2 linked regions of the Homo sapiens genome follow. The protein of the gene in region 1 interacts with the protein of each later gene in a biochemical or structural test. Each region holds a gene or a part of one and is shown on either strand. Other genes may lie near its edges.

Region 1 (7,421 bases):
CTGAGTCAAAGTATAAAACTGAGTTTCTATGCACTGAAAGCTAAGAACAATGCTCCTACGCACAGCAGCTCCACCAAGACGTATCCTGCTTATAACGCACAGGCTTTATGTGCTAAGAGTTTTTGTCTCTTGCAATTCAAAAAAACCTTCCTTGAGTTTCTTCCCGTGACCTTAGTCTGCTCATTCACGTATGCGTAAGAACTGTGCTGCATTATACTTTCATCCTCCATATTAACTTCACTTTGAAGGCAAGTAATGGCAAGAGACCACCATTCAAGCCCCTTCTGAGCTACAACATTTACAAATAAACAGTCCTTGACAGTTGAATGAAAAATATATGTAATGAAAAGGTTTCACTGATTTCTGAAAAGATTCCAGAAATCTGAAACTCTTCTTTCCCTTTCAATAAACCCCTTTGCAGAATTAATTTTTATTTTTCCCACAATTGTTCTCCAATTTTTAATCAATGTATTAGCTTAATGAACAAAAATTCATTCACTAGAGCAATTGTCTTCACATGTAAACAGAATTCAAAAATTTCACTCTTGTTTATTTATACTTCATATTAATCTAGAAAGGATGTGAAAAATAGATCAATAAAAAAAAATTACTTACCTTTTTTTCCTTTTGCTGGATTCTCCACAGCGTTCATCATCACTAAAATCAGAATCATAGCCTCCATGACCATGCATCTGTAAAGGAGTACAAAGTCAGCTATTTAGAATCTATGTTGCCAATTGTCCAGGAAACAATAATTCAAAAATAAGTTATCTTAAACAGCCACAATAGTTTTAAAGGATCATTGTGGGCAGATTCCTATTCACAGGCCATCTAGCCATCTAAAACTTTCATTCGCTTTTAAATAAGAGACATACCTTTCAGGAAATGCATCAACATTTTTCACCCTTAATTATCATTAGGTGAACAAAGAAGGCTACTCTTTGATCTTTTCACTGAAAAACCAGGCCTAAAAGCTGCAGTGACTGCTTACAAGGTTTAGCAATCCTTCACTTTTGATTCAGAGTAGTAATAATCACTGTGTGTTTATCACCAACTTTGTTCTAGACATTGTGTTAAATACTTTACAAACAACACTTCTAATTCTGCAAGTTAGAAAGTTATCTTCATTTAGGAATGAAGTAATCAAAGTTAAGTAAATCTATTTACAAATCCAGTAAGTGGCTAATCTGCTGTACTTGATTCCTGCGCCCACAATTTCAATTACTCCAAATTTCCTCTCTGGAATATGATTTACTATATTCCAGGAGAATTACAGTATTTGTGAACAGTACATCATCAATTGATGAAAATTTTCCTGTAATCTTTTTCAATATATGTAGAGATTTCCATTTTCTTTTGAGTTTCTTTAAGGTAAACCACCTTGCCCTTTGGATTAGTCAGCTTTCTCTTGTTTCATTTTATTTATCCAGTTATTTTTGGAGAGTCTCGCTCTATTGCTCAGGCTGGAGTGCTGTGGCGCCTTGATGGCTCACATCCTCAACCTCCTGGGCTCAATCAATCCTCCCACCTCAGCCTCTCCAAGTAGCTGAGACTACAGGAGTGCATAATCACACCTGGCAAACTTAAAAAAATTTTTTTTTTGTAGATAAGGGGTTTCGCCATGTTGCCCACGCCGGTCTCAAACTCCTGGGCTTGAGCAATCCGTCCACCTCAGCATCCCAAAATGCTGGGACTTCATTTTAGAACTGAAATTCTTAGAAATGCTGGAAGACCTCAGTTGCCACTCAATTGTATTGGAAGAAGCTCCTAGTTCCAGCTTTGCACTGAATTTGGAACACACACTAAGAAGGAAGGATGGACTATTTGATGTCATACATAACTAATTTACATGGCTGGAAGGAACAGTCCAGGTTAAATGATATATCAAATTGTTAAAACTAATATAACGACAGCAAGTGCAGCTGGAAAAAGAGGAAAGAACTCTCTAAACTTCATTGCATTGGATCTAGGGTAAACGACATGTTTCTAGTCCTGGCTACCTTGAATAAGTCATTTCATCTCCCTGGACTTCATCTATTAAATAAGATAGCTACATGAAATAATCTTTAAGTTGTTTAAATCTTTAAATAACCTTTAAAGTCTGTAATTCCATTTTCAAACATAGGTGTGTGGGTATATACCTCTCTTCTCTGCCCCACTAAAATCCTAGATAGGAAGATGCTAGTTAAGGTTGGAGATGAAGGTTTGAAAGCCCGAGTTCCAACTCTACCCTCCCTTACATCTGTTATTGCCTTACACACCTGGATTTTACACCCTTTTTTAGGTCAACTCCAGCTGTCTTACCACATCTGTTCAAGCCATATTGTCCTCTCACTCTTTGTCCTATGTCCTCACGTTCTTTACATCTTGATGGGGGACAGCTGTAGTGTGTTTAGAGATATATTCTAGGATCAGCCTACTAGATTTCACTGCTTGGCTCTGCACTTTCCATTTGTCTTTCTTTGGGCCTGTTCCTTAACCTCTCCAAGCCTCAGTGTCCTCATTTATAAAAAGAGGCTAGTAAGATGGCTGACCTCATACGAATGGAGATTAAAAGAGTTGCCTCATCTAAAGGGTTTTAACGGTGTCTTGTACAGTGAAACCCAGTAAATGTTACATCATCATCATCATCTTTTCCCTCGCCCCAGGACACGACTTCCTATTCTTGCTCCCACTCTCCCATTTCTTTATTCGCTGGCCGCTCCATCCGACCCATACCTATCTTAACTCACTGGTTGAACTAAAAAGCTCTCACTCACTTCAGGCCTACGAATCAACTGACAAGAGCGGGGAGAAACTCAAAAACGGAGATGCCAGGTGTCTCCAGAATCTGTCATCCAAAAAAAAAAAAACCAAACCAAAACAAAAAAAAACCCGACGATCAGCTAGTACTATATGAAAAACAAGTTTTGAGGTCCTTCTCCCTGATGCCAAATATACCCACAGCCCTCCTCACACACCCTTTCCCTTCCTCCCTGTGTGCCAAGTTCGCCCCCGGAGTCGTCGTTTCCTTCTTTCCCGGCAGCTGCAGCGACGACCCACGGCCTGAGAGAGCCGCTGCAGCACAGGTCCCGTGCGCCCTGCCGCACAGCCTCGCCACAACCACCACCGCCGCCGCCGCCGCCGCCGCCGCCCGCAACCCGCCTCTCCCTACGGGTCCCGACTGGGCACCACTTCCGGTCCGACACGGCCACGTGTTACATCTAAATGGCACCGTCCCCCGAGTGCGCCGACCTTGTGCTACAGCCAGAACAGCTCCGGGAAACAAGGGCAGCGGGAGAAACGGCCCGGAAAGGGACGAAGAGGCTTCCAGCTTTCGCCAAGTCGCGGCTCCCAGTTTTTCCCTGGGCCTCCTTCCTTTCCCCTCTAGGGAATCCGGCATCTAGTACCGCTGGCACTGCTTGCTGCTTAGCCCACGCCTCTCATTTGAAAATATATTTTGTTTTACCGTGCCTATCACCTGCCGTCCTCTCTCTAGTAACCTTAGTAACGCCTCCTCGGAGGATCCTCTCAGAGCAGCTCATCAGCGCTTCAGATCAGCCTCTCCCTCCTTCCCCCAGTAAAACAGTTCTCATAATTAGAACAAAAATATCTCTCCATCGTTTCGCCACCCACACAATAGATACCATTCCAAAAGCAGTGCTGATGGCAGAAGAGCTCATCGAATTTGTGAGGAAAGAAAGAATAGGAGGAGAGATTTCTCAGGGTTGAGGATTCTCTGCCGACAAGCGACCTGGCACATGCGAAAAGGGATCCAAAATAGAATCTTAAAAAGAAGAAGAAAAAAGGCAGGAAAAGTTGGATTATTTTAAGCGCCACTAGGTTCTTCCTGTGCTTTGCGTTTTCTACATCACGACGCCCCACTCTTTCCACTCTAGTTGTTTGGTTCATGTCTTGTCTCTCGCTGGCATTAGCAGCTATTCATTTTTTGCTTCCTCCTCAGTACCCAAAACGGTGCCTTGGAAATCACAAGTGCTAATTAAATATTTGTTGAATTGAACTGGCACGCTTCTGGCGTTTACAGTGGGCCCTTTTTAGAGAAAACCTTGGCACTTAATGCACAGTCATTTTACATCTTTTGCCCTAAACAGTAGATAACGATATCCTTATCAGTTCAAGTCTCTAACCCTGACAATAAATTATAGATACATTCTGCTTTATCCATTGCACTGAATGTGATCTTAAAAGGCTATAAGATAAATTAAATTATTGTAAATTAACTTATTCCAAAATGCAATCAGATTATACTTCAATAAAAACTTTTACTAAAAAAAGTGAAAGCAATAGGAAGCCTTACAATTTGACGTTATAGTATATGGAATTATTTTGTCAAGCAGTTTCTTTTTTGGTAAATATATTAAATATATAATTATTTTATTGTTAATAAAACTAAACAGACCTATACCTCATATCCAATTTCCTTTCTATCCATATTTGACATTTATTAGCATTTTTCTACCATCCCTAGCATCTTCTTGTTTGTTGCTTCATTTTACTCTTCCAACAACCCTGTGCTGCTGTGTTATTAGCCTCATTTTACACATAAGGAAGAGAGGCACAGAACCTAAAGCCACAAACCTGGTGAGGGTCGAGAACTGGGTAGTACTTGTGTCTGTCTCTCTATAAGACCCAGTTTCTCTCTCTCTCTTTCTCTCTTTTCTCTCTCTCTCTCTGTCTCTCTCTCCCCCACTTCATGGATTGTGTGGGAAGTAGCTTCTGGTTCCAACATTTCTAAGAATTTCAGATCTGTTGCTACCAGTCCATTCAGGCAAAGATTTCCATTTTTTACTTTGAGACAGCAGTTACTGAAAAAGAGTAAATAGAAAATATATATTAGGCATAGATTGCATGATCTGAACTAGAAATAATACAGGATAGAAAACCCACCTGCTTAGGAAATCTCAAGTTAACAATTATAGCTCAACAACAATAAAAAACACAAACATTTATTCAGTGCCTACTCTGGGCAGGACACTGCCCTAGACATCAGGGTTACAGGTATGTAACAGCAACTCCTTATCCTTGAAGGTTGACTAGTAAGACAGACAATGTGTGGAATAACTACAACAATATATTCTATCATATACCAAGTGTCTAGTACATGCATGAACCTGTTGTTCCTAATTTATAAAATATGTTATTTCAATGGATATGAAAATTTAAATGTGCACCAATGCTATGTAACTCAAAGCAACAAAATACTATATTAAGTATGTGGTCAGGATGAGGGAAGTTGGGTGATGATGGTGGTGATAATACCAAGTAATAATTCTGATATAAACTATGACTGTGCATTCTTTTTTATTCAAGACCGAGTCTCACTCTGTCACCCAGGCTGGAGTGTAGTGGCGTGATCTCAGCTCACTCCAACCCCTGCCTCCTGGGTTCGAGCAATTCTCCTGTCTCAGCCTCCCGAGTAGCTGGGACTAGAGGCGCACACTACGCCCGGCTAATTTTTGTATTTTTTTACTAGAGATGGGGTTTCACCATGTTGGTCAGGCTGGTCTCGAACTCCTGACCTCAGGTGATCCACCCACCTTGGTCTCCCAAAGTGCTGGACTTACAGGCGTAAGCCACCGCGCCCAACAAATGTGCATTCTTTCTTTTCTTTTCTTTTTTTTTTTTTTGAGACAGGGTCTCACTTCATCACCCAGGCTGAAGTATAGTGGTGCCATCTCAGCTCAACCTCCACCTCCCGGGTTCAAGCCATTCTCCTGCTTCAGCCTTCCCAGTAGCTGGGACTACAGGTGTGAGCCACCATGCCTGGCTAATTTTTGTATTTTTAGTAGAGGCAGGGTTTCACCATGTTGGCCAGGCTGGTCTCGAACTCCTGACCTCAAGTGATCCCGCCTTGGCCTCCTAAAGTGCTGGGATTACAGGGGTGAGCCACTGCGCCTGGCTGAATATGCATTCTTCTAATACTGTGTGTCTTTGAGAAGATTGCATTTTCCATGTTCTTTTTATAATATGATGCTGACACTTCTCTAACATAAGCTAATACCTATGGCCACAGCTTTGAATCTGGGCATGTCAGTGACTATAGCAGAAGTAATGCTAAGACACTTCTGATGCTAAGTTGCAAAAGGTGTTAGAGCTTCTGCCTGGGTTTGTCACTCTACTTCTTTAGCTGACATGGAGTGGAGCAGAGATGAAGTAACTTCACTGAGCCTCACCCAGATTGCAGACTAATAATCAGAATAAGTATAATTGTTTCAAGCCACTAAGACTTTGAGGTTGTTTGTTATATACCGATAAATATCCAGAACCATCTGCTGTCTCACTTAACCTCCATAACATTTGATGTTATGGAGCCACGCTGGGCTTTCTTTGTTTCTTCAACATGCATGCCTCTTCAAATTTACCATTTCCTCTACCCGGAATGGTCTTAAACCCTTTCTGTTTGCCTCCCTAACTCCTCTTTATCCTTCAAAACTCAACTTAGGTGAAGGAAAGGCCTTTCATGAGCATCTCTCCCACAGACTAGATAGGATTACTGATAATATGCACATTACTTTCCATTGCACTTAGCTACATACGTAGTAATAATTTAGCCCTGTTTCCCTCACTGAGATGCAAGCTCCACAATGGCAGGAAGCATACCTCTCTTTTTCAGTGTGGAATCCCCAGTGCTCAGCACAGTGCCAGACACATGATAGTTGCTCAGAATATTTATTGAACAAATGAAGTGGGTACTATTATTATCCCTATTTTACAATAAGAAAACAGATTTTTTTAAAAAAATTATATAACACTTCCAGAGTCATGAGTAAGCAAATGGGGCACAAATATAAGTGACTTCAAAGCTCACACCATATATATGTGTGTGTGTGTGTGATATGGTTTGGCTCTGTGTCCCCAGCCAAATCTTATGTTGAATTGTAATCCCCAATGTTAGAGGTGGGGCCTAATGGGAGGTGATTGGATCATGGGGGTGGTTTCTAATGGTTTACCACCATCTCCCTAGTGCTGTCTTGTGATAGAATTTTCAAGAAATCTGGTTGTTTAAAAGTGTGTAACACCTCCCTCTTTGCTCTCTTTCTCCTACTCCTGCCATGTAAGACATGTCTGCTTCCTCTTCACCTTCCACTACGATTGTAAATTTCCTGAAGCCTCCCCAGCCGTGCTTCTTGTGCAGCCTGTAGAACTGCGAGTGAATTAAACCTCTTTTCTTTACAAATTACCCAGTCCCAGGTAGTTCTTTATAGCAATGTGAGTACTAATACTAAATATATACATATATATATACACACACACATATATGTATATATAGAGAGAGATAAGTAGAGAGAGAGTGTTATCTCTCTGTTGCCCAGGCTAGAGTGCAGTGGCACAGTCATGGCTCACTGCAGCCTCAACTCCCAGGCTCAAGCAATCTTCCCACCTCAGCCTGCTTAGTAGCTGGTCCATAGGCTGCTGCCACC
Region 2 (3,592 bases), on another chromosome or scaffold:
GTTTGAGGGACATTGGATAACAAGGGCTGTTTCCCTTGGTTCTGAGGTAATAGACCTCCACATGCTTGAATTGCAAGGATTAAAGGATCATGGTACTGGTAAATTTAAGAAACCTTAAAATGTCTCCCTTGGTACTCCAGCACTGGTTATTTACTCTTCACATTTCATGAACCAGGTAGAGATGAGGTGCAGCTGAGCACTGGGGAAACTAACTGAGTTCTTGTTTCTGTGTTACAGGCTTTCCTCGGAGACGGGTGGCATGGGGAGCAGCTAGAACAATGCAGATTCATCCATAATCCCTTTCTGCTGTTCACCACCACCCATGATCCATCTGTGTAGTTTCTGAACAGTCAGCGATTCCAGGTTTTAAATAGTTTGTAAATTTTCAGTTTCTACACACTTTATCATCCACTCGTGATTTTTTAATTAAAGCGTTTTAATTCCTTTCTCTGTTCAGCTGTTGATGCTGAGATCCATATTTAGTTTTATAAGCTTCTCCCTGGTTTTTTTTTTTTGGCTCATGAATTTTTCTGTTTGTCATGGAAATGTAAGAGTGGAATATTAATACATTTCAGTTTAGTTCTGTAATGTCAGGAATTTTTCAAAAAAATTAAAAGATGGACTGGAGCTTTTTCTTTGTGAATAGAAACTGGATGCCACAGTGATTCATGTGGGTTTTATTCCTCTTGTCTTGCTGTTATTTTTGTACCTTTTATCCCTCAAAGGACCCTTCTTGGGTTTTGAATGGAAGCCTTTATTCCGGTTAAGATGTTTTCTTCTATTTTACCACTTCCATCTTTTTTTGTGGCCCTCGATCCTATTTTTCCCTGACTCCATGCTTGGTTGGCCCTTATAAAACTTGTGCCCAAAAGATTGAGGATTAGACTTTCCGAGGACTTACCTGTCCTAGGGGAGTAGGCAAGCACTTCCACTAGGGAGGGGGTGGGGGAAAGGAATGACACATGACATACATGGCATACACATTAAGCAGTTGATCATATGTCTGACTGGGTTCCAGTTTCTTGGGAATGTTGGTCCCCTTGTTCAGGCTTGCATATTTTAAACTAAAAATTTCAGTCTATTGTTTTTAGTAACTTCATTTATAGTCCTCCATAACAAGTTAGAAGGATGTATCTGCTACCATTTATTCCTATAATTTTAGAAAGTTGGGGCTTGACATTATACTCATTTAGTGAGAGTAGATGCAAAAAAGTGGAGGGGCAGGAGAACTTCTCCAGACACCTCAGATAAAGTCCGGAGCCCAAGGCTTTATCTTAACCATGTATGGTACCCCATTCATTCATCAAGAAAACCCTCAACAGCTGGGCCTGCATGGAGTGTTATATTTCAAGGTTTTTCACAGGGGTTACAGTAGGACAGTCCCCACCCCAATCAGGCACCAGGATAAAAGCAGGGACTTAAACAGCACCCCGGTTCTTCAGCCTGAGCCATCACATGCTATCAGTCTCCTAACCTCCCCCTGGGCCTTAAGACAGGGCTTGGGCAGAGAAGATAAATGGTGGGACAAAAAAATGAGTTACATTGCCACCTGAGAAACCTCAGAGGGGAGGACCCAGCCTTAGCCTCCCTCCTCCCAAGTGCAAAATGTGTAAACAGAGTAAACGGAACAGAAAAGTGCAGTCTAAGTGGTTTTCTCTCCTGCCCCTCCCACCGCCCCTCCCCCCACCCCCTATTATTTGGGGATAAAGAATATAAAGACAACCCTGGCTTTTCTATTGCCTTGTTGCTTGCTGAATATAAGGAATGGGGTGGGGCAGGAAGGGGCTTGCCCTTAGCCACAGCTCTACGGCTGTGCCTCATTCATTTCCACAGCTGCCAGTGTCCCTAGAGTTTATCAGGTGAATTGGTCAGGGGATCAGTCTCCCTCGAGCCTGACTTACGGCTGGGACAGCCCCATCTTTCTGTTGATTATGTGGCGCATATATATATATATATGTATATATATATAATTTATATAAATATTTCTCTATGTACAAGGAATACGAGTGGCTTTCATGGAGGGAGGGAAGCTGGGGGCCGCAAGGCATCAACGCTGTTGGAGTTGTCCAATTCAGTGCTGTCACAGTCTGAGTCCTCAGAATTGGGAGGGCCCTGTGAGAAAGAGTAGAAATGGAGTGAGATTCCTTGGGGTTCTTTGCTGGGGTCATTTTAATAGCCAGTGGCTTACTGATTTGTTTTTTAAGACAGAGTCTCACTCTCGCCCAGGCTGGAGTGCAGTAGCACAATCTCGGCTCACTGCAACCTCTGCCTCCCAGGTTCAAGCAATTCTTCTGCCTCAGCCTTCTGAGTAGCTGGGACTACAGGCATGCACCACCACGCCCAGCTAATTTTTGTACTTTTAATAGAGATGGGGTTTTACCATATTGGTCAGGCTGGTCTTGAACTCCTGACCTTGTGATCCACCCGCCTCGGCCTCCCAAAGTTCTGGGATTCCAGGCGTGAGTCACCATGCCCAGCCAGCTTACTGGTTTTATTCCTTCCAGATTTCAGTTGCTCAGGCCATTCTCCAAGGTGTCAGACTCCTTTCAGAATCATTCCCTGGCTGCAATTTATAGCTACATGCAAGCTACTGGTCAGGCATCGTAATAGATGCTCTGTGCAAGAGGCTTCTGAAATTCCACCACGTGGATATTTGCTCTTTATGGTACTTTCTGGCCTGTGCAGCTGTCTCCCCAAAAGCTGTTAAAAGACAAGGCATCTGCTTACAGCTCTCCCTGTTCAATATCTGCTTTTTGCTGTTGTGCCACTCACCCGCTCTCTGAGAAGTTCCTGGTGTGGAATGGGCAGGGAGCTGGGTTCAGGGCCAGGGATGACCTCTGAAGGAGGTGGGTCCAGTGGGATTTCTGAGCCCTGGGAGCACATGTCATCAGACCGCTCATCTGGCCGCTCATCAGTGTTGGTGCTGCCAACTTCAGGTGTGCCACTGGGGGAAGGTTCACTAGCTGTGCCTTCCTCCCCATCTGATGGATTCTCTGAGCTGAAGGTAGATAGTGACTGGCGCATGTTCAGGCTCTGAGGCCACCTACATGTTGAAGAGGGGGATTACAGCTTGGTTCTGCCCCTAGCAGAAAACAAGAATGCCATTAATTCTTGTAATGCCATCACTTACCTCTGGCTTGATGTCAGCTCTACTTCACTGTCTACCTCTCCTTCCTCCTCTTCCGATGAGATGCCACGTTTCTGCAGGAGAGATGGGGTGGGGGGGGTCTGATTAGAAGTGGAAAGAGGTCACTAAGAATCCAGGAGAAGGGAACATAGTTACGAAGGGTGAAGTAGGGAATGGCTTAAAATTGAGCATAATGTGGGGGATTAGACTTGGACCCCAGGGAGGATAAGGAAAAAGGGAAAGAGCTTGGGAGCCTTCCCATACTTTACCTGACTTCGGGTGACGGCAGCCCTGTACAGCAGTGCAGCTGGGGTCAAGTGCTGGGACCCAGCCCGGCTTCCTCCCCGGCCTGAGGTCCCTTCCCTTCCAGTTCCCAGAAGCCCCACACCTTCACCAGGCCCTACTGGAGGAGGTGGTTCCCCTTTGGCTCCCCCAGGTGAATCTGGGCTGGTGGAGCCAGGGGCT

Evidence for each region.
Region 2: the proteins of FRA10AC1 (region 1) and MAP3K12 form a complex in vitro, tested with the Homo sapiens proteins (one study listed by BioGRID).

The regions. Positions count from the first base shown.
Region 1 is NC_000010.11:93,699,415-93,706,835, forward strand, and holds the start of FRA10AC1 (protein FRA10AC1), read right to left. Parts: upstream 3,179-7,421; 5' UTR 2,961-3,178; exon of another isoform or gene 2,760-2,960; intron 2,382-2,759; exon of another isoform or gene 2,262-2,381; intron 693-2,261; coding exon 616-692; intron 1-615. UniProt on the Homo sapiens protein: May be involved in pre-mRNA splicing.
Region 2 is NC_000012.12:53,479,169-53,482,760, forward strand, and holds the end of MAP3K12 (mitogen-activated protein kinase kinase kinase 12), read right to left. Parts: coding exon 3,397-3,592; coding exon of another isoform or gene 3,331-3,396; exon of another isoform or gene 3,202-3,330; coding exon 3,131-3,201; intron 3,044-3,130; coding exon 2,773-3,043; intron 2,113-2,772; coding exon 2,014-2,112; 3' UTR 501-2,013; downstream 1-500. Other genes in the region: PCBP2 (poly(rC)-binding protein 2), read left to right, coding at 238-274.